Linked DNA regions of Homo sapiens: region 1 is linked to region 2. The links come from fine-mapping of genetic effects on gene expression. A gene starts in region 2. The other region holds a variant in brackets. All regions are shown on one strand. Distances are from middle to middle.

Region 1 (15,795 bases), 22 kb after region 2:
AAGGCAATTGAGAAGAAGCAGATACAAGAAAAGCTCCCTACCCTCCTATTTGCATAAAAACAGGACATACATTTTCAACTGTGTCCATCTACCAGGAAGGATAAAAGTTAAATCTCTGGGCTGGGCACGGTGGCTCATGCCTGTAATCCTAACACTTTGGGAGGCCGAGGTGGGTGGATCACCTGAGGTCAGGAGTTCAAGACCAGCCTGAGCAACATGGAGAAACCCTGTCTCTACTGAAAATACAAAATTAGCCAGGTGTGGTGGCACATGCCTGTAATCCCAGCTACTTGGGAGGCTGAGGCAAAAGAATTGCTTGCACCTGGGAGGCGGAGGTTGCAGTGAGCCGAGATTGCCCCATTGCACTCCAGCCTGGGCAACAACAGCGAAACTCTGTGTCAAAAATAAATAAATAAATAAATAAAGCTGGGCGCGGTGGCTCATGCCTGTAATCCCAGCACTTTGGGAGGCCAAGGTGGGTGGATCATGAGGTCAGGAGATCGAGACCATCCTGGCTAACACGGTGAAACCCCGCCTCTACTAAAAATACAAAAAATTAGCCAGGCGTGGTGGTGGGCGCCTGTAATCCCAGCTACTTGGGACGCTGAGGCAGGAGAATGGCATGAACCCGGGAGGCAGAGCTTGTAGTGAGCCAAGATCGTGCCACTGCACTCCAGCCTGGGCAACAGAGTGAGACTCTGTCTCAAAAAAAAAAAAAAAAAGTTAAATATCTGGAGACAACTTTATTTTTTATTATTTTTTTGGTTTCCATAATTTGGACTTATTTTATTGATACTCATTAGTGAATAAAATGTTGATTTTTGATGCATTACAATACACTTTTTGGTAGTGGTTGCACAATGTTGATCATTTATTTGTTTACTAAATACTGCAATCTCCAAATTGCCTTTTTTTTTTTTGAGACAGAGTCTCGCCCTGTCTCCCAGGCTGGAGTGCAATGGCGTGATCTCAGCTCACTGCAACCTCTGCCTCCTGGGCTCAAGCAATTCTCCTGTCTCAGCCTCCTGAGTAGCTGGGATTACAGATGCATAACACCATGCCCAGCTAATTTTTGTATTTTTAGTAGAGACAGTGTTTCACCGTATTGGTCAGGCTGGTCTCGAACTCCTGACCTCAGGTGATCCGCCTGCCTTGGCTTCCCAAAGTGCTGGGATGACAGACGTGAGCCACTGCGGCTGGCCAAATTGCCAATTTTTACATGGTATTTCTGGCAATGATGGTGGCTCGTCTCTCTGAATACATAAAATGGTCCATTCAATCCATGGTTTTCATATTCCTTTGTTATTCTATCTACTGCTTTAAAATACATTCAGGCTGAGTGCAGCGGCTCACACCTAGAGAATCCCAGCACTTTGGGAGGCTGAGGCGGGTGGATCACGGGGTCAGGAGTTCAGGACCAGCCTAGACAACATGGTGAAACCCCACCTCTACTAAAAAGTACAAAAATTAGCCTGGCATGGTGGTGCCTGCCTATAATCCCAGCTACTTGAGAGGCTGAGGCAGGAGAATCGCTTGAACCTGGGAGGTGGAGGTTGCAGTGAGCTGAGATGGCACTACTGCAATCCAGCCTGGGTGACAGAGCAAGACTCTGTCTCAAAAAAATAAAATACATTCAAATAAAAAAATATAAGTTACTTGCAACAAGTGCACACTTAGAACAGCGAGGAGAGCTGAGAACATAATTAACCAGTACTCTTGTGTTCAGAGCATAAATAGTCTGAAACCGTGGGACTGAAGCTTGCTCCTCATAGACTTTCTCCAAGTATCCTTGGTGGACGTAAGGTTACCCTCACTCAACGGAAGGACACATCTGCTGCTGTGGTGGGAGGACACAGAATGACAATTTCATTTACGTAGGACGTTTTCCTTCCATAATGTCTGGAACAAGTCGGAGACAACTTTAGACCCCTTTCAGCCTGGAGTGGCACCAGTGCAATCTAATAACAAACTTGACTCACTAGCCTTTATCTACCATTCGTTTTCCATATAGCTGCTTTCCCATGCACAGTTAGCCACCCTTGGAAGTCTAACCTAGGCTGGAGCTTGGGGGCCTGGACCTCAGCCCTCTTCTGGGACAGGCGGTAGGAACCCCAGCCCTTGTTCTGCAGCTGGCACAAGAGCTGTGACTGCCGGATGTGGGTCACATGGCAGCCCAGGGGGGCAGGAGAAGCCGGGGGAGGCCCACTGGCTACCAGACCCAGCCCTGAGAGGGGACAGGGCTCAGCTCCCACGGGCAGAAAGCTGTTTCCCACACACAGTTAGCCACCCTTGGAAGTCTAAAAATTGCTGTCCTTTATCTTGCCTACAAATGTATTGTTCTTTGTTGAAGATGCTCTGTGAGCCTGAATTCTCCCATCTGAGTACTAACCAGGCCCCACCGTGCTTAGTTTCCAAGATCAGACAAGATCGGGCGCGTTCAGGGTGGTATGGCCGTAGACAGTGTGAGCCTGAATTCTAAGCTACCTCTCTGAGTTACTCAACTCTGGGTACTCTGTGTGTTAAATGTGTGATACACATGTTAATAAACTTGTTTGCTTTTCTCTTGTAATCTGTCTTTTATAACAGAGCCCCAGCCGAGGACCTAAGATGGGTAGAGAAAACACTTTCCCTCCTCTACAGCCCTCAGGTGGCGGGTAGCTCAAGGTAATGGTGTCAACAGGCACAAGAACAATGATGGAATGGAGTGAGACACCAGCAATGCCTGCACCAGCCACTCATGAGCAATTATTTACAAATATTTATTGGGTTCCTCCTATTCTTGCCACCGGGGATACAGAAGGGAGGAGGGACTTGTCACGCTCCCAGTTTCCTGTTTTGCCCGAGAGGCAGACAATAAACTGGCAAACAAAACAACTACAGATTGTGAAATGTGTTCTAAAGAAAATATTCTGCTATTGTGAGACAAAGCAACAAACATTAAGAAGCTGTGTTTGCTCCTTTCTGCTTGTCGGCACAGTTTCACAAAGCACCTGACTCTGTGACTAGAGACAGACGTGCAGCCCTCCGGAAAGATGCTTTGAAGACAGCACAGGAGAGAGCCTGAGGCCCTCCCATGTCTCTTGGCTGAGTCACTACTTTTCTTTTCTTCTTCTTTTTTTTTTTTCTTTGAAAGAGAGTCTTGTTCTGTTGCCCAGGCTGGAGTGTCATGGCGCAATCTTGGCTCACTGCAACCTCTGCCTCCCGGGTTCAAGCAATTCTCCTGCCTCAGCCTCCCGAGTAGCCAGGACTACAGGCACATGCCTGGCTAAATTTTGTATTTTTAGTAGAGACGGGGTTTCACCTTGTTGGCCAGGCTGGTCTCGAGCACCTGACCTAAAGTGATCCACCCTCCTCGGCCTCCCAAAGTGCTGGGATTACAGATGTGAGCCACTGCGCCCGGCTTGAGTCTTCACGTTTCTTAAAAGAGAAATAATCCTAGTCCCTGGCTTTTCTGACACAGAACATTTCCAAGATGACATCTGACGAGGTTAGTGATGATGCCTCTGTGATCTAGGACCCAAATCTTGCTGTGATTCTGCTGTCATGTAATTCTGAGCAAGTCTGATGGGATTTTGCACATACGGAACCTCCACCTTTAGCCCCCAGATGTATATAAGCAATGGGCTGAAACATTGTGCCAGAGCCTGCTCCTGGGCTGGAGGCCTCAATCTATAGTCCTCTGTAAGACTTCTGAATACAACTAGCATTCATTCTTTAAAAAGCTTAATTTTTTCTCTTTTATTTGACCCTGTGGTAGAGAATAACTGGGTCTATGTGTGAAGGGTGAGGAGCAGAAAGGGTAGGTCTCTCAGGAAGAGGCATTTCACCCAAGAGCTAAGGAGGAAAGGGGAGCCCACCATATTTGTGCCTGGGGAAGAGCGTTGCAGGCACAGGGAATGGCAAGGTCGGAGGCTCTGAGCAAGAGAGAACATGGCGTGTCTGTGTAAGGGAAAGGACCGAGAGGACAAAGAGAAGGAAGCCACTTGGCGCACAGTGGGAGGAGAACCTCAGGGCTAGCTTTCAGGGCTGTGGCAGGGAGTTCAGGTTGTATTCTAAGTGCACTGGGAAACATTGCAACGTTAAAACCGAGTGTGACACGGTTTATCTTTTAAAAAGCTTACTCTGAGGCTGGGCACGGTGGCTCATGCCTGTAATCCCAGCACTTTGGGAGGCCGAGGCGGGTGGATCACCTGAGGTCAGGAGTTCAAGACCAGCCTGGCCAACATGGTGAAACCCCGTCCCCACTAAAAATACAAAAAAATTAGCCAGGTGTGGTGGCGGGCACCTGTAATCCCAGCTACTTGGGAGGCTGAGGCAGGAAAATCGCTTGAACCTAGGAGGCAGAGGTTGCAGTGAGCTGAGGTCTCATTATTGCACTCCAGCCTGGGAGACAAGAGCGAAACTCCATCTCAAAAATAAAATAAAATAAAAATTAAAAAAAAAGGTTACTCTGGCTATGAACCCTACCATATATTATCCTGCCCATACCTGTGGATTCTCGTTCAATGTGGGGCTCTGGGGGACCCAAGAAGAATCAGCCAGGGTCCCTGCCCCTAAGAGGCACTCAGCTCTTCTCCCTGCCACAACTTCACCCCCAGATGAGTCCCCCTCCTCTGCCCTACAACACTGACACAGTCCATTGATCCACTGGAAACTAGTTTATTTTTGATCAGTTTTTCAGGGGACAGGGCTGGAGTGGGGTGGGAGGTGGCTAGGCTCTGAAGCTTGGTTCTAGGATTGTTAGTTCTCATCCTCAGCACTGCGGCGGCCGAAGTCCATCCATCCATAGGCTTCTTCTTCTTCCTCCAGCCATGGTCCCTGCTTCTTGGACGGGTCTGAGGAGGTGAGAGAGGCGAGAATGGGGGAAGGATGCCTACCTTCCAGGAACTGAAGTCAGAGCCAGTCTGGGGAGACCTTGGCCAAACCTGGCCAAGTGAGGCAAGCAGGGCAGTCAGCAGCTCCTACCTGCCACGAGGTGTGGGGGACCCTGGGGTCCCAGCTGCCTTCGATGATGAGAGGCTGGGCCCTGCTGCTCCAGCCAGGGTAGCTCCAGGTCCCTGTTGGCCCCTGTACCTAAGGGTGCATCTGGCTGCTGGGAGCGGGGCTTCCAAGAAGCTTCAGAGAAGGCGGCCAGAGCCAGTGCAAAGATCAGCACATACACACACAGTCGCTGCATCTCGTCTGCAAAGGGGAGAAGGGACTAGCTTAAGGGTGAGGCTGTCCCCACAGAGGCCCAGAGGCAGGGGACTGAACCATGTGGCTCCAGGCCTCTACCTGCTGATGAGTGTGCAATTCTTTCTTTTTTTTTTTTTTAGACAGAGTTTCACTCTTGTTGCCCAGGCTGGAGTGCAGTGGTGGGATCTCGGCTCACTATAACCTCCGCCTCCCGGGTTCAAGTGATTCTCCTGCCTCAGCCTCCAGAATATCTGTGACTATAGGCACGTGCCACCATGCCTGGCTAATTTTTGTAATTTTTAGTAGAGATGGGGTTTCACCATGTTGGCCAGGCTGGTCTCGAACTCCTGACCTCAGGTGATCCACCCGCCTCGGCCTCCCAAATGCTGGGATTACAGGCATGAGCCACCGCACCCGGGTGAGTCTGCAATTCTGTGTGGAGTTGTGGACTATTTCTTCAGATCAGTTCTCCAGTTTCTGCCAGTTCCACACCAGCCCCGAAGTCTTGTGTTTTTTCTCTTTACCTACCCCGATTACAGCCACTGCTTCTATTGGAGAAAGTCAAATCCTAGGGCAATGGTTTCCCTAGGTTCTGTTCTGCAGAATTTGAGGCCATGTTAGTGGTTCTGTAGCTGTTTAAGTAATGTAATTTATTTATTTATTGAGACAGGGTCTCACTCTGTCGCCCAGGCTGCAGTGCAGTAGTGCAATCACTGCTCACTGCAGCCTCTACCTCCTGGGCTCAGGTGATCCTCCCACCTCAGCCTCCAGAAGAGCTGGGACTACAGGCTTGCACCACCACGTCCAGCTAATTTTTTTTGTATTTTTTGTAGAAACAGGGTTTCACCATGTTGCCCAAGCTAGTCTTGAACTCTTGGGCTCAAGCAATCCTCCCGCCTCAGCCTCCCAAAGTGCTGCGATTACAGATGTGAGCC[A/G]CTGTGCTCAGCCCAAGACTTGTTATTTAAAGTGAACTTTTTAGGCCAGGCATGGTAATCCCAGCACTTTGGGAGGCTGAGGAGGATGGATCCCTTGAGCCCACAAGTTTGAGACCAGCCTGGGCAACATACTGAAACCCCATCTCTACAAAAAATACAAAAATTAGCCAGGCATGGTGGCATGCACCTGTATTCCCAGCTACTTGGGAGGCCGAGGTGGGAGGATCGCTTGAACCGGGGAGGTGGAGGTTGCAGTGAGCCGAGATTGCACCACTGCTCTCCAGCCTGGGCGACAGAGTGAGACCCTGTCTCAAAAAAACAAAAACAAAAAGTGAAACTTTTAAATAGTAATACCAAAGGAACATGGACATCCAGCTGTGTTACAGACCGCATGTTATCACTTTGGAGACTGCAGCACATTCAATGCTTGGCCAGCTCACACTGATTTTTGTGCAGCCCTGAGAGGAAAGGTTCTCCTGTCATTTTTGCTTAACTGAGGAATATCCTGTGATTATAATGAAGCAGTTAAGAAAAAATTAAGCTGTCACCATTAGCAATTATGTATCAGGGTGAATCAAGTTTGGGGAAAACATAATACAGAACTAAACTGGAATCTCAAACAAACATAAAATTCAAATGCTCATCTATTCCCTGGACTCACTATTTTTGTATGCTTTTGGTCTCACTATTCTGATTGGCTTTATCATAAGAAAATGATAAAAATTTTCTCTTGTCAGAATACATTTGTATTAATAAAATACTGTACTGCTTTTAAGTTTTTCTTTTTTTCTTTTCTTTTTGTGAGACAGAATCTTGCTCTGTCTCCCAGGCTGGAATGCAGTGGCTGGCGTGATCCTGACTCGCTGCAGCCTCGACCTCTTGGGCTCAAGAGATCCTCCCACCTCAGCCTCCTGAGTAGTTGGGACTACAAGTGTGCACTACTATGCCCAGCTAATTTTTTTGTTTTTATTTTTAGTAGAGATGAGGTCTCACTATGTTGCCCAGGCTGGTCTGGAACTCCTGAGCTCAAGCAATCTGCTTGCTTCAGCCTCCCAAAGTGTTGTGATCACAGGCATGAGCCACGGTGCCTGGCCATTAAGTTTTTCATAATCAGGTTTTCTGTTAGGTTTTCTTTGGAAGAAAAGAATTCTGCTGCTGAAGAAATGTTTGAAAAATCAGTGATCTGGAGCTGTATTGTCAGATGCTAACCACATGTGTTGTTCAGTGCTATAGCCACCAGCCACATGTGGCTCTTTACATTTAAATTAATTAAATTAAAAAATTATGGTCAGGTGCAGTGGCTCACGCCTGTAATCCCAGCACTTTGGGAGGCTGAGGGGGTTGGATCACTTGAGGTCAGGAGTTTGTGACCAGCCTGGCCAACATGGTGAAACTCTGTCTCTACCAAAAATATGAAAAATTAGCTGGGTGTTGTGGCAGGCGCCTGTAATCCCGGCTACTCGGGAGGCTGAGTCAGGAGAATTGCTTGAACCTGGGAGGCAGAGGTTGCATGTCACTGCACTCCAGCCTGGGTGACACGGCGAGACTCTATATAAAAAAACAAACAACAACAACAACAAAAACTTCCTTACACTAACCCCATTTCAAGCGCACACGTGGCTAGTGGCTACCATATTGAACAGTGCAGATGAAGACCATTTCCTGCATCATAGGACGTTCTTTTGGATGGCACTGGTCTAGGAAAGGGCTTGAAGTGGGATCCAGGAGCTGTGGATTCCTATCCCAGCCTTGCCTAATAATCCCTGTGACTTTGGGCAAGTCACATCTTGCCTCTGGGCCTCAGTTTTCTTGTCTGAGAGAAAGGAGAAGAACCCCAGTCCTCCTCACCTCCCAGGGCTGGGAAGAGTGTGAAGGGATAGGCTAAGGGCAGGGCCCCGGCTGCGGCAGAAGGGCAGGTGGAAGGCAAGGTTGGGAATACCAGGGTAGGTACTGGAGCCAAGACCTAGTTCCATCCTGGGATAAAGAAAGGGTCCCAGCTCTGGAGACCCCAAGGGGTGAGCCCCAGACTCTGGCCAGTGGCCTGGTACCTTGATGGGGGAGAGGACCTGTCAACCCACTTCCTAGCCTCTCCCCTCTCCTCCTGGGTTTTCTCACCTGCAGAGCTGGGAGGTGTGTGGTGCCACGGCTGGGCCTGGTGCCTCTCAGGTCTCTGCTCTGCTTGATGCTCCAGGCCTGCCTTATAAAGCCCTCAAGGTCCCTCCCAACTGTCCCCCCACCCCGCCCCTACCCTGCCATATGAGTCCAGGCGAGAGGAATGGGGTGGGGCACAGGTACAGCCCATCACCCTGCCCCGCCCTTTCATTTAGTGTCAGTCAGTCATCCAGGATGTGGGGGAAGGATAGGGGAGTTGACCTTCATGGTGAGGGGCTGGAGCGGGGTGGCGGCAGCTCTCCAGCTGTACCTGAGGGGCAGGAACCAAGCTCCCTGGGTCAGGAGCAATGCTTCCCACCATATCCTGGGGGTCAGAGGCCTGGCACTTATCTCTCGAACTACATAGGGACCTTTGTGGGTGGTGGTAGGTGAGGGAGTGAACCCGATGGGCTTAGATTCAGGGAAAGTGGATTTCGCCATCCACTGATGTTTGGCAAGCGTGTGAATGTGGGGTGATGTATTGATTCCCCGTCCCCTCCACTGGACTCTGCAAACATAACGTGTTACCAGGAGCAATGGGTTGTGGGCTGATGGCCCTGTTCTCTCCTTCTAGTGGCTCACATCCTGGTCACCTCTGAAGTCCTTTCACCCTCCCCCTACCATGGAACACCCTTGGTGCCTTCTTCTCCTTAGGCCCTCTGTGCTGGGCTGGGTTTGGCTTGTAGCTGCCCCGTGTCTTCTAGGTCAGCTGCCCATGCACCACCACTTGCAAACCCCCTATGCAGAACCAATTCCTGGAGGGTCCTGCCTTTGAAGCCTCCTTCATTTTGCTTTCAAGGGGAGCTAGTAATCTGCATAACAACTTTTTTTTTTTTTTGAGACAAAGTCTAGTTCTGTCACCAGGCTGGAGTGCAGGAGTGCAGTGGTGTGATCTCGGCTCACTGGAACCTCCGCCTCCTGGGTTCAAGCGATTCTTCTGCCTCAACCTCCCTAGTAGCTGGGATTACAGGCGCACGCCCCCACGCCTGGCTAATTTTTTGTATTTTTAGTAGAGATGGGGTTTCATCGTGTTGGGCGGGCTGGTCTCGAACTCCTGACCTCATGATCGGCCCAGCTTAGTCTGCCAAAGTTCTGGGATTACAGACGTGAGCCACCATGCCCAGCCAACAACTTTTCAGTATCAAAATATACCTTCAAATGGTTAGCAAACAGACTAAAGCATTTGCCAAAGATGGACCAGAAAACAAAATGGTACCTTGTTGACTTATTTGATAAACTGCTGCCTCCACATGGTTTGACCAGATGTAATGAGCCGTAGGCTGTTTTTTACTTTTCCACTGTTGAGAGCAGAGATTTTGCTCCTGTTCATGCGTCATTGGGCCCCCACCTTTTCTGGGAGAGTTTGATCCCCTTGGGTATTGGGTAACTGCAGTGGTACCCATGCTTACAGCCAGCCTTGCTGAGAATTAATGGGTGATGAAGGAAGCAGGCTGTGCGGTGTCCATGGCAACTGACGGCTGAATAACCGTTGTGAATAACCACTCTCATCTAGAGCAGGACACGGTGACTCAGCAGATGGAATAAATGAAAACGACAAAAAGCAGTGCAGGCATTGGTGATAATTAATTGAATCACAGAATCTCAGAGATGAAAGGACTTTGAGGGGGCTTGGGAGAACAGGTGGGGTGAGTGTAGCTCTGTTCATACACTAGGGGAATGAATGAAGACATTCGTGTTGCTATGGTAACACTAATGGGAAATGATAAGTTTTCAGTAGAACCCTGGTTGTACCAGAGCCCAAGACTCAGTTTGTGCCCATGGAGGGGGTTATGCCCCCTTGAATGTTCTTCCCCAGGCTGGTTACATGAGGGATGACAATTTCAACAAATAGAAGCATGTCTCCTATTCCATAGGCAATGGTTAGAATGTCACTATTTGGCCAGGCTTGGTGGCTCACTCCTGTAATCCCAGCACTTTGGGAGGCTGAGGCAGGTGGATCACGAAGTCAAGAGATCGAGACCATCCTGGCCAACATGGTGAAACCTTGACTCTACTAAAAATACAAAAATTAGCTGGGCATGGTGGCGGGCGCCTGTAATCCCAGCTACTCGGGAGACTGAGGCAGGAGAATCGCTTGAACCTGGGAGGCACAGAGAGGTTGCAGTGAGCTGAGATCATGCCATTGCACTCCAGCCTGGTGACAGAGCGAGACTCTGTCTCAAAAAAAAAAAAAAAAAAAAAAAAAGAATGTCACTATTTGCAGACCCTGCCAGGTCTGCAGGGGAAGGGTTGCATTCAGAGATGAGCATCCTTGACCCTGAGGAGCTCCCCAGTCACGGACTGCACGTTCTCCTCATGAGGGGACCTCGTCTGATGGAAAAGGAAGGGTTTCCTGGTCCTGTCTTTTTCCAGCTGTTGAGCTTTGAGCATATTTCTCTCCTTCTCTGAGCTGTTTTCTCCTCTAGGAAATGAGGAAAGTAACTTGGGGAGGAGGGTCTCGTGAAGGTGATGTACATAAAGCGCCCTGCACGGTGCTCAAAACATTGCAGATATTTGGCCGGGTGCGGTGGCTCATGCCTGTGATCCCAGCACTTTGGGAGGCCAAGGCAAGCAGATCACCTGAGGTCAGGAGTTCGAGACCAGCCTGAACAACATGGTGAAACCCCGTTTCTACTAAAAATACAAAAATTAGCTGGGCGTGGTGGCACATGCCTGTAATCCCAGCTACTTGGGAGGCTGAGGCACGAGAATTGCTTGAACCCAGGAAGTGGAGGTTGGAGTGAGCCAAGATTGTGCCATTGCACTCCAGCCTGGGTGACACAGTGAGACTGTCTCAAACAAACAGACAAACAAAAGAGAATATCGCAGGTATTTAATCCATTTTGCGTCTTCTCCCCCATCCTCTCTGGGTCTCAATTAACCACATTTGGAAATAGGAATCATTCATTTGTACCTCATAGGGCTGCAGTGAAGGGAAGAGGTGACAAGGTCTGTGCACACGCTTTATACACTTGGGGGAGTTCTCCTTCCCCAAGGCTTAAAGGAGGGTAATTCCCTAAGCATATCACTCTGTGAATCCAAGGGTTTCCCTCCTGCCAGCTGTGACTCAGAGGGACCTCAGCCCAACTGCCACTGAAAGAGGCAGCAGGGATAGAGTCTATGGAAGCTGGACCTCCTGGTGTACAGGGGGTTTTGGAACTGGTGAGGCCAGGGTTTGAATCATGGCTCTAACACCGACTAGCTGGGTGAGCAGAAAATTCAATTTCTGGGCCTACCAAATTGAAGACCAGATCCCAGACCTTGGGACCCATCTCCGTCCCCCTCGAGGGTGCAGGTGTGTGGGCCCTGCCCCTGTCATCACAACGATAACAATGCCGTGTACCAGGAACTGATAAGCTCTTAGCATGAATGAATGCAATCACTCTTCACCATGATCCTAGGACCTAAGTGCTAGTGTGAACCCCTTCTTCAGAAGAAACTGATGGGTACGGGGGCTTACGCCTGTAATCCCAGCACCTGGGGAGGCCGAGGCCGGCAGATTACTTGAGCCCAACAGTTGAAGACCAGCCTGGGCAACATGGCAAAACCCCATCTCTACAAAAAATACAAAAATTAGCTGGGTGTGGTGGTGCGTGGCTGTGGTCCCAGCTATTTGGGAGGCTGAGGTGGGAGGATTGCTTGAGCCGGGGAGGTGAGGTTGCAGTGAGCCATGATTGTGCCACTGTACTTGGGAGACAGAGTGAGACGCTGTCTCAAAAAAAAAAAAAAAAAAAAAAAAGAAGTAGAAACTAAGGCTTAGACAGGTGAAGTAATCCCCATCCTGAGTCCACACACCAAAAAGGAGAGGTGGGTCTGAAACTCAGGTCTCTATCCTCCCAGTAGGAATGTGGCAGGCAGAACAATCATGTCCCCAAAGATGTTCCTGCCCCAATCCTTGGAACCTGTGAATATGTGATTACATAACAAAAGAGACGTTGCAGGTGTGATTAAGGTTACTGGCTTTAAAATAGAGAGCTTATGCCAAGTGCAGTGGTGCATGCCTGTAGTCCCAGCTACTCTGGAGGCTGAGGCAGGAGGATCACTTAAGCCCAGGAGTTTGAGACCAGCCTGGGCAACATAGTGAGACCCCTGTCTCTGAAAAAAAAAATTAGGGAGTTTATGCTGGATTATCTGACTGGGCCCAGTGTAATCACATAGCCCTTAACTTTCTTCAGCTAGAGGCAGAAGAGATGTGGCTGAAGGTCAGGTCGGAGAGCTGGAGTTATGAGGACTCCACAAGCAATTGCTGGTCTGAAGATGGCAGGAGGGCAACAGGACGAGGAAAGCAGTGGCCTTGAGGAGCTGAGAGGTTCTCCACCGACAGCCAGGAAAGAGGAATGTCAGCCCCGCAACTACAAAGAATGAAATCTGGCCAACAACCTGGATGAGCTTGGAAGTGGATTCATCCCTAGAGCCTCCAGAAAGAAATGCAGCCCTGCCGACCTGATTGTGGCCTTGGGAGATCCTAATCAGGGGACCCCGTGAGCCACTCTGTACCAGGACTTCTGACCTACAGAACCGCGAGAGAATAAATTGCTGTTGTTTTAAGCTTCTAAATTGTGGTGACTTATTATGGTAGCAATCAAAAATGGATACAAGGGATCACAGCCTTGTGAAGGTTTCTGTTTAGTAAAAACTGGCCCAGCATGAATTTCCATGTAAATTTTCAAATACAAAGAAGGGAGCTGTTCTTTGAGTTATTCTGACCATCCGAATATTCCAAATTCATTCCAATTACTGAGCACCTGCTGTGAGCTAGGGTACAGATGAGGCTACTTGGGGATAAGAGGTGAATATGACAGCGCTGGGTGCAGCGGCTCACGCCTGTAATCCCAGCACTTTGGGAGGCTGAGGTGGGTGGATCACTTAAGTTTGGGAGTTCAAGACCAGCCTGACCAACATGATGAAACTCTGTCTCTACTAAAAAATACAAAATTAGCCGGGCATGGTGGTGCACGTCTGTAATCCTGGCTACTTGGGAGGCTGAGGTGGAAGAATTGCTTGAACATGGGAGGCAGAGGTTGCAATGAGCTGAGATTGTGCGATTGCACGCCAGCCTGGGCAACAAGAGTGAAGCTTTGTCTCAAAAAAAAAAACAGGTGACTATGACAGGACAGACCCTTTCATTGCTTTGGTGGAGTTTAGATTCTAGGGGCATAAAAGAGTAACACACGGCCGGGTGTGGTGGCTCACGCCTGTAATCCTAGCACTTTGGGAGGCCAAGGTGGGCAGATTGCCTGAGCTCAGGAGTTCAAGACCAGCCTGGGCAACATGGTGAAACCCTGTCTCTACTAAAATACAAAAAAAAAAAAAAAGCCGGGCGTGGTGGTGTGTGCCTGTAGTCCCAGCTACTTGGGAGGCTGAGGCAGGAGAATTGCTTGAACCTGGGAGGCAGAGGGTGCAGTGAGCTGGGATCGTGCCACTGCACTCCAGCCTGGCGACAGAGTGAGACTCTGTCTCAAAAAAAAAAAAAAAAAAAAAAAAAAAAAAAAAAAAAAAAGAGTAACAGAAAAACAAGGGTCCCCTGTGAAGGAGACTGTTCCCTGAGGAGGGAGAGGCTTCTCAGTGGACCCAGGCACACTCCTGCCTGCCAGGGCTGGCTTTGGGAAACAGATCACTATTGATGAGCTGCAAACCGTTGTCAGGGAGGCAGTGCCTTGGCTTCCTAATTGGTTATTGATGGCAGAAAAGGAAGAGCTTGATGACGACTCAATCATTCTGGCCCAGGCAACCAGGGCTTTGGAGGATGTGGTAGTTCTGGGGACAAACAGTGACACCTGGAAGGTGTTTGCATCAATGAGGGCATCCATGATCCCCCCTGGGGTAGGGGGCTAGGTAGGGGGAGGTGGGTTCTTGGGTTCTGGCCTCAGCTGCTGTCTGAGAGTGGTGACATGGCAGGGCCAAGAGGGCAGCCTGCAAGCTGCTTGCAGACTGGGCTGGAGAGGCTGCCCACCACCCCTGGGCCCAGGCTGGGCTGTCAAGGACAGAGAGTAGTGGCTACCCTTACTCTGGCTTCCGCTTCTCTCCTGAGCCTCCTCTCTCCTTTTCTCCTCTGATGCCCACCTGTGCCTTCGAAGCAGTGGTTCTCAGCCCAGGCTTTGTATTTGGATCACCTGGCCTCAAGTGATCCTCCCTCCTGGCCTCCCAAAGCCCTGGGATTTATAGGCATGGGCCACCACGCCTGGCCTAACAGTGGTTTTAACTGGGAAAAATAATCCTAAAGGCCCCTCTGTGAGAGGATGAGAGGAGTCTTTATTCGGGTGTGTTCCAGGCTGAATGGCTCATCCCCGGCCCAACAGGTAGGAGGTGAGGGAGCTGAGTTGGGGAACCCCCGGGTCTTGGACTCCATGTGCTGCTGCCTCTTCTCGGCCCACAGCTTCCCATCCCACCCTCTCCAGAAGCCTCGCTCCTGCTGAATCTGTCTTCACTGTGACCTCCAGCTCCTCCACTGTCTGGCTCCTCCCAGCCCGCCTACCCCTCCCAGGGTTTGTCATCTCAGTTCTGTGTGATGCACATAGATTGCTGCCCCTGTCCTGCTTCTGAACCTGCCAGGCTGGTCCCAGGTCCCTGACAGGCCACCCCGACCCCTTCCTCAGCTCCTGCCACTCCCTGCAAAAACCGACAGGAAGTTTCCGAAAGTGACCAGTTGATTCAATTGCAAATTAATATTCTGCAGCTTGGTTGTTACTGGCAACTGTGGTGAATCATTTCTCTTTCATTCCCAAGGTCATTTGACGTCAGCCCCCTTTTCCCCACCGTGAACACAGCTGCCTAAGTCCCGCTTCCGTCCTTTCCTCCTTTCCTCCATCGCTGGAGGTTCTGTCACCCCATTCAGTGTCAGCCCCTCCACCAGGGCCCATCATCCCAGACCCTCCTGCCTGCTTAGAGACCGTGTGCTTTCACTCTTTCATTCACTCATTCATCCATGCATCTGTTTACTCAACACAAATTTTCCAAGTGCCTGCTTTGTGTCAGGCACTGTTCTGACCCTGGGGACACAATGGTGATCGAGGGGGGTCTTTGTTCTTTCTCTTCCCTTTTCTTTGTTGTCTATTGAGCCCAGGAGTGGGGTGGGTTGGAGTGACACATGGTGGGCTCAAGGGGCCATGGGGGAGGTTTGGATGGCTGGTTATGCCTATGACCTCGCTATTGAGAACGTTATTTCAGAGAAGGTAGAAGGATCAGTGCGTTTCTTCAAGCTTTACTGAAGTTTTGCTGCATATATAAACCCACCTGATTCCAAATGATCCCTGGCAGACGGCAGAGGTCATTTCTGTCCACGAGCCAGAGAGATGCTGCCATGTGGCAAGGGCAACACCCCTGCTCATAATGTGCCCACCCAGCCAGCTTTGGAAATGATGCAATTCTTTTTTTTTTTTTTTTTTTTTTTTTAAATAAGCCATTTAGCCAGGCGCAGTGGCTCATGTCTGTAATCCCAGCACTTTGGGAGGCTGAGGCAGGCAGATCACTTGAGAACAGGAGTTCGAGACCAGCATGGCCAACATGGTGAAACCCCCGTCTCCAATAAAAATAC
Region 2 (15,795 bases):
AGAGCAAGACTCTGTCTCAAAAGAAAAAAAAAAAAAGAAAGAAAGAAACCCCGTCTCTACTAAAAATACAAAAAATTAGCTGGGCGTGGTGGTGTGTGCCCGTAATCCCAGCTACTCGGGAGGCTGAGGCAGGAGAATCACTTGCACCCGGGAGGCGGAGGTTGCAGTGAGCAGAGATCATGCCATTGCACCCCAGCCTGGGCGATAGAGTGAGGCTCCATCTAAAAAAAAAAGAAGAAAAAAACCTCTGCAAAGACTCTCTGTGATGTCTACTGTTGAGTGAGAGCTGAGAGGTTGAGAGGTCAGGACAGCAGTGAACATCTTCCACTTTGGAGACCACTTGTAGCAGTGAAGGGCCCAGCCAGGCCCTGAGGGCATCCCTGGTGCCACTTTGCCCCACCTACACCATGACAGCCTGCCCTCCAGACTAAGGAATCAGCGCACGTTGCTGGAGCCCCTGCTAGGTATGAGGTGCCCAGGTGGGGTGACCACAAGCATGTGAGGAGCTGTCTGTGTTCTTGATGCTGTAGCTTTTGGTCAAGCTGAGACCTCTACACACGGGAGAGTGTCAATGACCACCTGCGAGGCAGCCCAAGGCCCTCCTGTAGCCCAATGGGCGTGATGTGGTTGGAGAAGGTGAAGGATGCTCTGGGCTTCCTGGAGGAGGGTTTGGGGAGAGCTGGGCCTTGAGGAAGCGCCTGGGGTCAGGGTGTTGCCTGCTCTCCTAGTTTGCTAAGTTATCCGGTAAGTATTTATCGAGCGCTCAAGCTTGCTAGCCTGCACCAGGCTCTGGAATGCACAGATGAAGACTGCCAACCCCTGCCTTGAGTGGGGCCCACAGGTGAGAAATCAGTGTTTATAGCCCAGGTCAAAGAAAGAGACAGACACATAGAGGAGAGGAACGTTTACTTATGAGGAGTAAAGGGGGTTCCTTTTCAGAAGGCCTGGCGGGGCAGATACAAAACACGGCAAGGATGTAAAGGAAAGCCTGACATTATCCGTTCTGCCATGGGAACCACAACGATTTCACTACCTTATCACAAAGGTCATGACTTAGCTTTAGGAATAGGCTTATTTTTTGTTAGGGAGTTCAGATTTATTTGTTTGTTTCTTTGTTTATTTATTTATGACAAGGTCTTGCTCTGTCATCCAGGCTGGAGTGCAGTGGCGGGAAGACGGCTAACTGCAGCCTTGACCTCCTGGGCTCAAGCAATCCTCCTGCCTCAGCCCCCGCAAGTAGCTGGGACTACAGGCGTGCACAATCATGTCCATCTAATTTATGTATTTTTGTAGAGACAGGGTTTCACCATGTTGCCTAGGCCGGTCTCAAACGCCTGGGCTCAAGCAATCTGCCTGCCTTGGCCTCCCAAAGTGCTGGATTACAGGTGTGAGCCACCGCGCCCGGCCAGGAGTCCAGGTTTATGGTGAAAACTCAGTCTTTCTTATTTTGAAGACTGGAACCAGTCAGGATGATTCTGTTATTTCGGATTTATGTCAGAGTACAAGTGTTTCCCTCTGAGCCCATCAAGCATGGGCCAAGGCAGGCTCAGATACTAAAAGCTGGGCACAGAAGCCCTTCTTGCTTTTGCCCCAGTGTGTGGAAGGCTGAGGTAGAGGGAAGCACATTGGATCTGGGAGGCAGGGACCCAGATCCAGCCAGGTTAGATCAGGGGAGGCTCCCAAGACTGGGTGGCGTCTGAGCTGAGGCTTGAAGAAGGAAGAGCGGACATAGCGTCTGCAAAAGGCACTTGGTATTTGTCCTTCCTTTATCTCCATCCTCTGGCAGGATTCCTCCAGAGGCCATGGGGCAGATGCCCACGGTGGGCATCTAATTTATAAGACCTAACAGTTGGCTCATAAGTAGTATTATGTGGAAGCAAACCCAGTGAGCACAGGCACCCCTGGGTACGGGAGAGGGAGGGTCGCCCAGCTTCTTCTCTGAACTGGGAGGCCGTGGACAGCACATGGGCTGTTGGTAAGACAAGCCTTTGTGATCTTCCCTCCCTGATACTTCCTGGCTGTGTGGCCTTGGATAAGTTGCTTGACCTCTCTGGGCTTCTGTTTTTCATCTATAACACAGCAGTATTTTTTTCCTTCCAGTGATGATAAAATGAAATATATCCAAAATCCATACGGCACCTAGTCAGGTCTCAGTGAATGTGTATTTATTCCTCTGTCTCTATCCCCAATCCCACAAATTGTCCCTGGAAGGGCTCAGAGCCTGGACATGGACGCAGGGATGAGAGGGAATTGCTGACTCTGGGGACAGAGGTCAGGGAGCGAAGGGCTCCTTGGTGTTATCCCTGAGCCTGGAGGTAGCTCAGGGAGGCCAAAGGGCCAGAACATCCTTCTAGGCTCGCCACCACCTGGTATTGCCTGTCCAGCAGGCTGGACGCAGCTGACGGTCCTGCCCTCCTCACAGAGGGTGCTGTGGTCCCCCCACTCCCAGCTGCTTCCCGTGGAGCTTCCCAGGTCAGGGCACTGCCGACCTGCTGGACCCAGCTCCATATCAGGCCAGCCCAGGCCTCCTGCTCTGGTCCCTGGGGAAAGGAGCGGGGCTGGGCTGAGGGCTCTAGGGAAGAAGTGGGCACCTGGCTGTGCCAAGGCTCACTCCCTGGGGATCTGTGGCTCACATCCTGGCCGGTCTCCATCCTCTCCCACAGGTGCCCCTGGAGGGTTCCTGGTGGCGCTCACCTGTGCCAGGGGATGTGGAGCCCTGGTTTGGGAGTCCAGAGTCCTAGGATCTCACCCTTACCGGAAGTCACTTCCCCAGGGCGATTACCACTCCCACCATCCATACCCAGAGAATCCACTGATGTGTTCATTCAACAAATATTTATTGGATGCCTCATTAGAGTCCTGAGAATACAAAAGTGAGCAAAACAGATACTGCTCTCATTGTTACTAAATAGATCATCTTGTCAATGACATCATCTTACCCTGTGAGCGGACAGAGTCGGGAGAGAATGCCAGGGGAGGGGAGGACACAGAGAGGCCTGATCTGGCACAGGATACCTAACACAGGTGAGCCCCACCAGGGAGGGCTTCTCAGAGGAGGAGTCAGACATCAGAACCAAGAGCAGGAGTGAGCCTGTGTGGGAGGCGGGGCCTTCCTCCAGGATAGGAGCCCCCAGGTGGGGAAGAACTTCAGAGTGGGGGTCAGTACTCTCCACCTGAGGTCCCAGCCACCTCAGCCCCTTGCCCTCGTCCCCGGCACTTGCTCTCTGTCCTTTCTCTCCTTGCCTCTCTCCCTTTCGGTCCTGGCCAGCAGCGGGGCCATGGAAGACAGCAGGCAGAGGGCTCAGACCCCCAGCTGCCCCCAGCACCTCGTTACCTCCTTGTTCCAGGCCAGAGGGGCTCAGTGGCCCAGGAGTTGGGCTGGGCTCTTTAAGAAGAGGAGAAAAGTTAAAGGGAGCCAGGTGTGGTGGCTCATGCCTATAATCCCAGCACTTTGGGAGGCCGAGGCTAGATGGATCACTTGAGGTCCGGAGTTCAAGACCAACCTGGGCAAAATGGTGAAACCCCGTCTCTACTAAAAATACAAAAATTAGATGGGTATGGTGGCATGTGCCTGTAGTCCCAGCTACTCGGGAGGCTAAGGCAGGAGAATTGCTTGAACCCAGGAGGCGGAGGCTGCAGTGAGCTGAGATCATGCCACTGATCTCCAGCCTGGGCGACAGAGTGAGACTCCCTCTCAAAAAAACAAAAAGAAAAGTTAAAGGGGAACCTCTGAGGGCCTAGGCCCTCAAGTCCCCCATTCTCTGCTGATGTAAGGAGGGACTGTACCTGGGTTCTGGGGTGGGGGTGAGGGCTATGGCGGCCACTGCCTGGTTCTGGAGGGGAAGGCCTGGATCAGAGATGGGGGAGGGCCCCCGAAAGGCCTGCAGGAGACAGCAGGACTGCGGCGGGGGTGAGGAGGTCTCCCCTGTTCCTAGTTCAGGGTGCCCCTCCACCCTGCTCCCCTGCAGAAAGTAACCCCGGTGCCTGTCCCCCCCAGGTCCCTGGCACCGACCCTTAGGGGCTCTTTCTATTACCTACCCTGTTCCAGGTGTTTTTTTTCCCAGGGTCAGGCCAGGGGAGGGGGCAGGAGGAGGGGCCTGAGCCACCTGTGTGCTGCCCAGGGCTGGGCACTGGAGTGAATGTGCCCCAGGTTCAGGGGGTGTGCACAATTAGGTGGTGGGTGGTCTGGCTTTGCAGCCTGGCAAGTCTTCTGCACCCTCCCATCCTCTTTCGGATCCAGGAGGGTCCATGGATGCACACTGGGAGGGAGGACAGGAGGCCAAGGGTCTTTGCTGTGTCTGATTTCTCCCCCTAGATGAGAAGCAGGAGAGGGAGGGGGTGGTTGACAGAGGAAAACCACTTGAGAGGCCTGGATCAGAGACTACCCCCAGTCTCCTGGACAGCCCTAGGCTGTCGAAAGGCAGATATCTGTCAGCCAGGCCAAAATGCTTACTTCCAGAATGACGGGCCCTGAGCCCTGGTTTCTCCATTTGTAAAATGGAGTCTCTGTCCCTACTCCACTTTCTGTGGGGCGACTGAGCCTGTAGGTGAGGAAGCCACGTGGGGAGGTATACGGGCTGACACTGCCCTCTGGTGGCCGTAGCCAGAGTTGCTGGCTGCCAGTGCGCTGACCTAGAGGGTGTGGTCAGCTGGGGGAGCTTTCAGGGTCTCCTAACTTCATCTCTGTCTTCTCCATCCCACTGCCTCTGCCTTCTTCCCCGTCAAACTCTCCAGGGGTTTCCCAGGGCTTCTTCCTCATGGGGCCAGAAACAATTTAATTCAGCAGGAGTGTAATAGGCTTCTTCTGTATGCCCTGTTCTGTGCTTGGTGGTTGGGGCTGCAGAGATGTCCAAGGCACAGAGAGACAGTCCAGGAAGCTGGGCTGTGGGAGGACCACTCGGCAGAGCCTATGGAGCTGTAGCCTCACGGAAGCCTGGGCTGTGCCGATGCCCGAACAGCCACCTCCTTATGTTCTTCAACCTCACTGTCGTAGCAAACCCTGGGGTTGTGTGTCTCCTTCAAGCTTTCTGCTGACAAAGAAACCATAGGAAACATGCAGACTTTGGGCTGGGCACAGTGGCTCACGCCTGTAATCCCAGCACTTTGGGAGACCAAGGGGGAGGCGGATCACGTGAGGTCGGGAGTTCGAGACCAGCCTAACCAACATGGAGAAACCCCGTCTCTACTAAAAAGACAAAAGTAGCCGGATGTGGTGACGCATGTTATTGGGGAGGCTGAGGCAGAGGCAGGAGAATTGCTTGAACACGGGAGGTGGAGGATGTGGTGAGCCGAGATCGTGCCATTGCACTCCAGCCTGGGGCAACAAGAGCGAAACTCCGTCTCAAAAAAAGAAAAAAAAAAGAAAGAAAGAAAGAAAGAAAATAAAACATGCAGACTTTGAACAAGGAGGAGAACGGTTATGTTATGAAAGTTCCTCCATTTCCAGAAGTATTCTGGGAGATAAGCTCTCTTTTCTGCACCTGTTTTCTCCTCCCTGAGGGAACATTTCCATCAGCATGTAAACATATTGTCCTCTCTCCCATCTTCAAAACACACTCCCCAGCACTCATGTCCTCCTTCAGCTCCTGTGCCCTTTTCCAGCTCTCCTTTGTTGCAGATTTCTTCAATACAGTTTTCTATACTGTCTCCCTTCCTTCCTTCCTTCCTTCCTTCCTTCCTTCCTTCCTTCCTTCCTCCCTCCCTCCCTCCCTCCCGCCTTCCTTCCTTCCTTCCGACAGGGTCTTGCTCTGTCACCCAGGCTGGAGTGCAGCCTCGACCTGTGCTCAGGTGATCCTCCCACCTCAGCCCCTGAAGTAGTACAGGTATGCACCACCATGCCCAGCTATGTTTTTTTTTTTGAGACGGAGTTTCGCTCTTGTTGCCCAGGTTGGAGTGCAATGGCGCAATCTCGGCTCACTGCAACCTCCGCCTCCCGGGTTCAAGCGATTCTCCTGAGTACCTGGGATTACAGGCACCCGTCACCATGCTCAACTAATTTTTTGTATTTTTAGTAGAGACGGGGTTTCACTATGTTGGCCAGGCTGGTATCAAAATCCTGACCTCAGGCGATCCACCCGCCTAGGCTTCCCAAAGTGCTGGGATTACAGGTGTGAGTCACTGCGCCCGGCCAATTCTTGTATTTTTTTGTAGCGAAAGGGTTTTGCCATGTTGCCCAGGTTGGCCTCAAATTCCTGGGCTCAAGCAATTCACCCTCCTAAGCCTCCCAAAGTGCTGGGATTATAGGTGTGAGCCACAGCGCCTAGCCTTCTTTCTGTTTTCATTTTGTTACCTCTCGTTATTTCCTCACTCCTCTTTGGTCTCTCTCACCCCCTCTACCAAGACCGCTCTTTTTTTTTTTTTTTTTTTTTTTGAGACAAGTCTTGCTCTGTTGCCCAGGCTGGAGTGCAGTGGTGCAATCTCGGCTCACTGAAACTTCTGCCTCCTGGGTTCAAGCAATTCCCCTGCCTCAGCCTTCCAAGTAGCTGGGCTTACAGGCTTGTTCCACCACACCGAGCTAATTTTTGTATTTTAGTAGAGATGGGGTTTCACTATGTTGGCTGGGTTGGTCTCAAACTCCTGACCTCAGGTGATCCACCTGCCTTGGCTTCCCAGAGTGCTAGGATTACAGGTGTGAGCCACTGTGCCTGGCCCCGCAAGACCGCTCTTGCCGAGGCCATGACCCCAGCTCACCAAGGTTGCCCATGACCCCAGTTTGCCAAGCTGAGTCTCTGTCCTCAGTCTTTGCCTGGCCCAACAGCACCACCCAACACAGGTGGCCACTCTCTACATGAAACATTTTCTTTACTTTCTAGGACCCAACTTTCCTGGTTTTCCTCTACTTCACTGCCCCACTCATCCCAGTCTTCCTTTGATGCCTCCTCTTCTTCTTTCTGCCCTCTGAATCCTAGGGGGTTAGTCCTGGGCGCTCTTACCTGTCTTCTCTCAGTCTCTTGGGGATCTCACCAGTCTCATAGCTTTAAATGGTCATCAAAGAACAATGACTCCTACATTTAAATCTCCAGCCCGGTCTCTCCCCTACATTCAGATTTATACATCTAATTGTCTACCCAACATTTCCAGTAGGATACTTAAAAAAAAAGTATTCTATTTATTTATTTATTTTGAGGGGTAGGCTCGCTCTGTAGCCCCAGCTGGAGTGCATTGGCACAATTTCGGTTCACTGCAACCTCTACCTTCCAGGTTCAAGCAATTCTCCTGCCTCAGCCTCTTGAGTAGCTGGGACTACAGGCACACGCCACCATGCTTGGCTAATTTTTGTATTTTTAGTAGAGACAGGGTTTCACCAGGTGGCCAGGCTTGTCTGGAACTCCTGACCTCAGGTGATTCGCCTGCCCCGGCCTCCCAAAGTGCTGGGATTACAGGCGTGAGCCACTGCGCCCGGCTACAGGGAGACTTTTAAGAGGCGTCTCCCAAGGAGAACAGGGGTTCGCCAGCATGGCAAGAGGAGGGCAAAGCGAACTAGGGTTGGAGGTGAAGAACAGTTAATCCAATCAAATGGAAGACGTCGAGTGGCGCGAGCACTGGGGTGTGAGCGCGAGGGTCAGGGTTGCAGCGCCAGGCAGGGTTGCAGCGCCAGGCAGGGTTGCAGCGCCAGGCAGGGTTGCAGCGCCAGGCAGGGTTGCAGCACGTTGGAAGCGCACTGGAGTTTGGAATGTCTCTCCCAGTCAACCGGGAAAGACGCAGCGCTGCCCTAATGCACTGGCCACCCCAGACCGTATGCACAACGTTGGGTTGGCAGCTTCTACACCAGGGAAGGCACCCGAAACCCCGGCGCGGCAGCTGGGGAGGGGCTGCCCCCAGCCAGGGACCCGCGAGTGCTGGGGCAGCCGCGGCTTTGGGCAGAACCATTCTCCGGAGATGGAGAGGGCAGAAAAAATCTTTCGCTCCCATCCCAACTCGGAGCCATCCGGAACTTGCACTCGCCCTTCTTGCCCTGCTTTTCTTACTGTGCTCTGTTCCGTCACCACTAGCTCCCCTCCCGCGCGGCTCTGAGTCCCGCTTGCCACTAGTTGCTTCTCGGCAGCCCCCACCCCTACGCGTGGTCCGGCCCGGCGGCTGGCGCAGGTTATAAAGGTCCCGCCGCAGCAGCGGACGGCAGACTCGAGATGCGCCCGAAGAGGTTGGGCCGGTGCTGCGCGGGGAGCCGGCTCGGACCCGGGGACCCAGCAGCACTCACCTGTGCACCTTCGCCCTCAGCCAGTCCCGCTCCGGAGCCCTCTGCGCAGCCGCAGGCACGGGGCACTGGACAGAGAGTAGGATCCCGAGCCACCTCTGGATCCCAGTTCCTCTCGGAAGCCCGCACCGGAGCTCGCCCGGCCTCGGAGGCTGGAGCCAAGGCAGGAGCCCGGCGCCCGTCCGCATTCTCGGCCATCCAAGGGGATGTCCGGTCTATGCCCGACAATTCGGACGCGCCGTGGACCCGCTTCGTATTCCAAGGGCCGTTTGGTTCCCGGGCCACTGGCCGGGGGACTGGAAAGGCAGCGGGCATCTGGAAGACGCCAGCCGCCTACGTTGGCCGGCGACCCGGGGTGTCCGGCCCTGAGCGCGCCGCCTTTATTCGGGAGCTGGAGGAAGGTAAATCGGGCCCCCGGGGTCCTGGACCGGGTGGGGACTGGGGCAACTCCAGGGAGGAAGTGGCCCCATCGGGTCCAGGCACCCCGCCCCCTCTAGCACTCAGTGTCACCCGTCCACCACCCCCGCGATGTCACTGCGGTGTCTGTCTGGTCGCCCCTTCTCCATCTCCTCCTCTGCTCTTGTCCCCTGGTTTGTGCCCGTGAGTCAGGTTCTGGGGCCTGCACGCTCGCCCACCCACCTCCACGCGCCTCTTGCTGCGGCAGATCTGCACCCCTTCAGCGCCCCTCTCCTGGGTCTACCGCAGTGCCAGGAGAGGGGCGGGGGGCTGCGGGAGGGCGCTGTCCCGCGCGCTCTGAGTCTGCGCTGGCCGACCGGGCTTGCGTGCGATGGAGGGGTGGGTGGGCGGGCGGAGGGGGAAGTTTTGCCCACTTTTTGGTTGCGGGTATGGGGGCAAAGTCGCGCTCTTTTCCTGCCCCTTGTCTCTCCTATCCTCCTGCGGGTCGGGGGAGATCTCTGGATTGGGCCTAGAGGCTCGAGTGTCTCCTAATCTGGTGAAGTCTTCCTCCTGTCCTCTGCACACGCAACAGGTGCAGGGTGAGTGGCTGCGTCTGTTTGTATGACCCAGGAGACTCCATTGCACTGCCTCCTGGGTAGGGGGTGATGAGCCAGTCTGAGGCTGTACTTCCCCTGGCTGTCTCCATTCTAGGCGCCAGGGACCCAGGTGTCCGGAGAGCCCAGTTTCTGAGCCTGGAGGACTGTGACCCCCTTACCTCAGGCTCCTCCAGGGGTAAAAAAAAAAAAAAAAAAAAAAAAGCCGGGCGCGGTGGCTGACGCCTGTAATCCCAGCCAGCACTTTGGCAGGCCGAGGCGGGCGGATCACTAGGTCAGGAGTTCGAGACCAGCCTGGCCAACATGGTGAAACCCCGTCTCTACTAAAAATACAAAAATAAGCTGGGCGTGGTGGCGGGCGTGTATAACCCCAGCTACTCGGGAGGTTGAGGCAGGAGAATTGCTTGAATCTGGGAGGCAGACGTTGCAGTGAGCTGAGATCTCGCCATCGCACTCCAGCCTGGAGGACAAGAGCAAGGCTTTGTCTAAAAAAAAAAAAAAACCAAAAAAAAAAAAAACCAAAAAAAACCCAAAAACCTAAAAACCCTGTCCACTTGGCCCTGGGAGCAGGGAAGGGAGTGTTGAGTGCCGAGGGGTAAGGGGAGGATGTGGGGGGCAGGAGGGGAGCCCAGTCTTCTCTCCCGATGACCCTTGTTGGAGAACTGACGATAGGACGGGAAACAGCTGTTTGCTGGTAGCATCTGCTCCTTTTTCCTGACCTGGCTGGGCCTTTTCTCCCCACCTGCCGCCTCCTGCAGCACTGTGTCCTAACCTACCTCCGCCAGTCAAAAAGATCACCCAGGAAGACGTCAAAGTGATGTTATATTTGCTGGAGGAGGTGTGTACTGCCTTCCTGATCCAGGCAAGCCCTTATTCTAGTTTTGTCCTGTAGGGGTGGGGGTCTTGTTTATTTCCTGATTGGCAGTCTCTCTGGGGCCCCAGGTTAGGGTCCTTCTTATGGAAGACAGGTCGATGTGGGATGTTCAGGCTGGAAGAGCTCTCAGAGCCAATCTGGTCTGATCTTCTTTTTCCATGAGGGGAAACTGAGCCAGGTTCCACAGTGGGTTAATGGCAGACTCTGGTCTGGTACCCTAGAGAACTAGGGGATGGGGAAGGTTCTCTTAGGGGCCTAGCCTCTCTCTGACCCCTGTGTCCCCCCCAGCTTCTCCCACCTGTCTGGGAGAGCGTTACCTATGGGATGGTCCTGCAGAGAGAGAGGGACCTGAACACTGCAGCTCGCATCGGCCAGTCCCTGGTGAAACAGAACAGTGTTTTGATGGAGGAGAACAGCAAGCTGGAAGCCCTGCTGGGCTCAGCCAAGGAGGAGGTAACCGGGTGGGGAGGAGAGGATAGCGGGCCAATCTACACCTGCCTCATGCCAGGACCCTCTCCTGTCCCTGCCCACTCCCAACCCATGGCTCCTCTCTCTTCCTGCCAGATTTTATACCTCAGACACCAGGTGAACTTGCGGGATGAGCTCCTCCAGCTCTACTCAGATTCTGATGAGGAGGATGAGGATGAAGAAGAGGAGGAGGAAGAAAAGGAGGCAGAAGAGGAACAGGAAGAAGAAGAAGCAGAGGAAGACCTGCAGTGTGCTCATCCCTGTGATGCCCCTAAGCTGTGAGTTCCTGCCTTTGCACCTGCAAGTCCTTTCTCTGAGCCTCAATTTCCTCATTTGTTAAGAGGGACACAGGTGATGTGCTTGCTGGCAGGGTTGCTGGAACTAATTGAGAACACTGCCCTTAGCCCTGGTGGGCTGGGAACTGGGAAGCCCCACTCCCTGCACCCTGACTCCCATTCCTCCCTCCCCTAGGATTTCGCAGGAGGCATTGCTGCACCAGCACCACTGCCCACAGCTGGAAGCCTTGCAGGAGAAGCTGAGGCTGCTGGAGGAGGAGAATCATCAGCTGAGAGAAGAGGTGAGAATGGGGGAGGAGGGCGTCCCTGCTAGCAGGGGGTGTTGACTTCCCTGTCCCTTCCTCTTTGTCTCCCTCCAGGCCTCTCAACTCGACACTCTTGAGGATGAGGAACAGATGCTCATTCTGGAGTGTGTGGAGCAGTTTTGTACGTAATGTTGTCACTCGGGGTGGGGGGTTGTCCCAAGGAGCAGAGAAAAGAACTCAAGATGTGGAGTATGGAGATCCAAGTTCAAGTCCCAGATCTGGCACTCCTAGCTGTGTGAACTTGGATACATTCCTTGACCTCTCTGAACCTTTGTCTTTAGAATGGGGATTAATTTTCTCAGCCCCACTGATCTCTCCAGGGTTTATGAAGATTAAGAGTGTCAACAGCTGAGGAAGTACTTTGTGCAAACTATAAAGAGCTATACAGAAATTGTGGGTCTCAGGCCAGGCACGGTGGCTCATGCCTGTAATCCCAACAGTTTGGGAGGCTGAGGCCGGCGGATCACCTGAGGTCAGGAGTTTGAGACCAGCCTAACCAACTTAGAGAAACCCTATCTCTACTAAAAATACAAAAATTAGCCAGATGCAGTGGCACAAGCCTGTAGTCCCAGCTCCTTGGGAGGCTGAGGTGGGAGAATTGCTTGAACCTGGGAGACAGAGTTTGCAGTGAGCCTAGATCACGCCACTGCACCCCAGCCTGGGCGACAGAGCAAGACTCCATCTCAAAAAAAAAAAAAGGTGGGTCTCCTCCAAGCCTGTCTTCTCTTATTTGGGGCAGGCAAGAGGGAGCCATGAGCTGCCAGAGACCAGGCACCCAGGGCTGGGACAGTTCAGAGTCATGCACGGGGCAGTGGCTGTGCCTGGCATCGTCCTAGGCACTGTGTGTTTATGAAGATGAGTGAGGAGCAGTGTTTGTGCCTGAGGAGTTCAAGTGTAGCTGGTGAGATGCAAACGCAAAGTGGCAACAGCTGAACTCCTGCTGTTCCCTTTACCCCAGAACTGACCTTCCTTCCTGCTGGGTTCTGCAACTCCCTGAATGGCCCCACTGGTCCCCAGGCTACTGGAGTAGGAACCAGTCCCCAAGCTCTGTTGCTTTTACCTCCTAGGAATGGCTTAAGTCTTTTTCCCCCTCCCCACTCGGGCTGCCTCTAGCCCAAGATACCTCTTAACTGGTCGCACTGCCTCTACTCGCGCCCTACCAGGAACTTCTGCACACAGCCTTAATGAGTTTTCTAAAACCAAACCTGGCCAGGTGCAGGGGCTCCCACCTGTGGTCCCAGCTACTCAGGAGGCTGAGGTGGGAGGATTGCTTGAGCCTGTGAATTCTGGGCTGTAGTACACTATGCCGACAGGGTCAGTATGGTCCAGGGAGTGGAGTACCACTGGGTTGCCTGAGGAGGGGTGAACTGGCTCAGGTCAGAAACAGAGCAGGTCAAAACTCCCATGCTGATCAGTAATAGGATCGCACCTATGAATAGCCACTGTACTCCAGCCCCAGCCTGGGAACCTGGCAAGACCTCATTTTTTCTTTCTTTCTTTCTTTTCTTTTCTTTTCTTTTCTTTTCTTTTCTTTTCTTTCTTTTCTTTCTTTTCTTCCTTCTCTCTCTCTCTCTCTCTCTCTTTCTTTCTTTTTTTTTTTGAGATGGAGTACAGTGTTGCAGTCTTGGCTCACTGCAACCCCTGCCTCCTGGGTTCAAGTGATTCTCCTGCCTCAGCTTCCTGAGTAGCTGGGACTACTGGTGTGTGCCATCACGCCTGGCAAATTTTTTTTTTTTTTTTTTTTTGACGGAGTCTCACTGTCGCCCAGCTAGAGCAATGTCATGATCTCAGCTCACTGCAACCTCCGCCTCCCAGGTTCAAGTGATTCTCCTGCCTCAGCCTCCTGAGTAGCTGGGATTACAGGCCTGTGCTACCGTGCCCAGCTAATTTTTGTATTTTTAGTAGAGATGGGGTTTCACCATGTTGGCCAGGTTGGTCTTGAATTCCTGACCTCAAGTGATCCTCCCGCCTTGGCCTCCCGCAGTGCTAGGATTACAGGTGTGAGCCACCACGCCCGGCCAAGACCGCATTTCCTTTTTTTTTTTTTTTTTTTTTTTTTTTTTTGAGAAGGAGGCTCCCTCTGTAACCCAGGCTGGAGTGCAGTGGTGTGGTCTTTGCTCACTGCAACCTCCACCTCCCGAGTTTAAGCGATTCTCCTGCCTCAGCCTCCCGAGTAGCTGGGATTACAGGCATGCGCCACCATGCACAGCTAATTTTGGTATTTTTAGTAGAGATGGGGTTTCACCATGTTGGGCAAGCTGGTGTTGAAATCCTGACCTCAAGCGATCCATCCCCCTCAGCCTCCCAAAGCGCTGAGATTACAGGCATGAGCCACTGTGCCTGTCCCAAGACCTCATTTCTTAAAAAACAAGTAGCCGGGTGCAGTGGCTCACCCCTGTAATCCCAGCACTTTGGGAGGCAGAGGCAGGTGGATCTCTTGAGGTCAGGAGTTTGAGACCAGCCTGGCCAACATGGTGAAACCCCGTCTCTACTAAAAATACAAAAATTAACTGGGCGTGGTGGCGCATGCCTGTAATCCCAAGTACTCGGGAGGCTGAGGCAGGAAAATCGCTTGGACTCGGGCGGCAGTTACAGTGAGCCAAGATTGCACTATTGCACTCCTGCCTGGACGACAGAGATTCGGTCTCAAATAAATAAATAAATAAACCAACAAACCCAAGTCTGACCACGTCATTACTGTGCCTAAAACTCCCAAATAGCTTTCCATTGGCCAAAGGATAAACCCCACCCCCTTGCCCACTACTGTGGTCTGGCCTGTGTGCACTGTTCTGGGCCCTCCCCGTCCCAGTGTCTTATGATGGCCTCTGGGCCTTTCCAGTCAGCTTGGACCCATGTTTTTCCTTCTTTGCCTGGGTGAGCTTCACTTGCCCTGTGGTCTTAGCTTAGTGGTTCCTTTTTCCAGGAATCCTTCCTTACCTTGCAGGTCGGGTTGGGTGCTGTAGCTGTGATGCCCCTGCCCTGTACACCCTTGACATTTGCCCATCATGGCCTGTATGATGTGTGACTGTGGTCTGTCTCCCCACCAACTTTACCTCAGTGTGGCGGCTGGGTCTTACTGACCACTCACCCTGGTGCCCTGCTCAGTATCAGTCAATGAACATTTCTTGAATGGAAGACCTGAGTGAGGAATGCAAAGCCCTGCAGGACCCACTGGCACAGCGCAGCAGCCGAGGGTGGGGGAGACAGAGGCATCTGGGAGGGCCAGAGCTGGTCCCTGAAGGCCAGGGGAGCCAGGGCTGACCTGTCCTCTGCCCTCCCCAGCGGAGGCCAGCCAACAGATGGCTGAGCTGTCGGAGGTGCTGGTGCTCAGGCTGGAAAACTATGAACGGCAGCAGCAGGAGGTCGCTCGGCTGCAGGCCCAGGTGCTGAAGCTGCAGCAGCGCTGCCGGATGGTGAGTCGGGTGTGTGTGGAACCCTCTTGTCGTGGCCCCATGGGACCCTAGCTTCCTTCTTCCTGCCTCCACTCGGCTCCACCAGGCCTGAGGTCCCTTTCTGTGTCAGAGTCAGAGACCTCAGAGAGCCCCTTATCTTGACCCCTTGTTATCTTGAGGAGACCAAGGCCCAGAGAGGGTCCTGGAGTCTTCTAGGAACCAGGCTGCGTGACTCCCCTGCCTTCTTTGCCCTCCTTCCGTGTGACTTGTCATTTCATGGGCTGCCAAGGACTCACTGATGTGCCTGGGAAGACTTGCTGGAAGCAGGGGGTGCCCTGAGTGGGTAGGCCTCAGATGGGGGTTCACTGGTTTTGGGTCCTTCCAGTATGGGGCTGAGACTGAAAAGTTGCAGAAGCAGCTGGCTTCGGAGAAGGAAATCCAGATGCAGCTCCAGGAAGAGGTGAGTCTCGCTGCCGGCTTCTGCCCCCACCCTGGAGAGCCGCTGGCCCAGAGTGGGGACCCCAGGCCCTTGGCAGCTACCTGACTCTGGAGAGGACTAGCAGGAACTGAGTCTTGTCCGTTTCCACCCCCTCCATGCCTGGCACAGCCCAGCAGGTGACAGTTCCATCAAGGTCTGAGTGGTGTGGAGTGCAGGGACCTGCCCTGGGTCCCCCACATGACACTTGGAGTCCAGAACCTGGGCCTCTGGCCTCAGCCTGAGAGCAGATAGGCAGGAGTGCTGGACTGGGTGTGCCTGGGTCCCAGCAGAGCGTGTGGGTGGGTTCCCAGCTGCAGGACCTGCGGGAGAAGTACATGGATTGTGGGGGCATGCTGATTGAGATGCAGGAGGAGGTGAAGACCCTCCGCCAGCAACCCCCAGTGTCCACTGGGTCTGCCACCCATTACCCATACAGCGTGCCTCTGGTGAGGACCCTCCCCTGGCTGCCCACTTTCCTACGTCTGTGCCTGTGTCTCAGCCTTGGTGGCTGATTGAGATCCCAGTTCCCTTCTGTGCCTGAGCCTATGGGTGGGGGTTCTGTGGGGGTCCTCTGGTAACGTCTGTTCTCTCCACCATAGGAGACTCTTCCTGGTTTCCAGGAGACGCTGGCTGAGGAGCTCAGAACGTCTCTAAGGAGGATGATCTCAGACCCTGTGTATTTTATGGAGAGGTGCGTGGCTGGGGCCCTCCCTTGCCCCATAGGCCATGGCCTTTCCTGTAGTGGGGAGGGGGTTTGCCCTCACACTCTGACCTTCCA

What was found. PIP is the estimated chance that this variant, and not a neighbour inherited with it, causes the effect.
Region 1: its variant is fine-mapped to the expression of HAP1 in thyroid (GTEx, PIP 0.97).

What each region holds. Positions count from the first base shown.
Region 1 is chr17:41,704,818-41,720,612 of GRCh38, reverse strand. It overlaps GAST (gastrin), which reads right to left and starts at 8,282. Exons shown (of 3, transcript NM_000805.5): 1 at 8,226-8,282; 2 at 4,966-5,181; 3 at 4,644-4,835. The coding sequence starts at 5,176. The coding sequence ends at 4,741. It also overlaps a transcript of HAP1 not described here and the pseudogene RNA5SP442. RefSeq lists a silencer at 2,862-3,156 and enhancers at 11,917-12,444, 14,769-15,561. The variant A/G (reference allele first, on the strand shown) is at 6,111.
Region 2 is chr17:41,726,966-41,742,760 of GRCh38, reverse strand. It overlaps HAP1 (huntingtin associated protein 1), which reads left to right and starts at 8,118. Exons shown (of 11, transcript NM_177977.3): 1 at 8,118-8,595; 2 at 9,963-10,042; 3 at 10,367-10,531; 4 at 10,643-10,824; 5 at 11,018-11,123; 6 at 11,202-11,268; 7 at 14,430-14,560; 8 at 14,925-14,999; 9 at 15,617-15,708. The coding sequence starts at 8,127. It also overlaps the pseudogene RN7SL399P. RefSeq lists an enhancer at 8,687-9,229.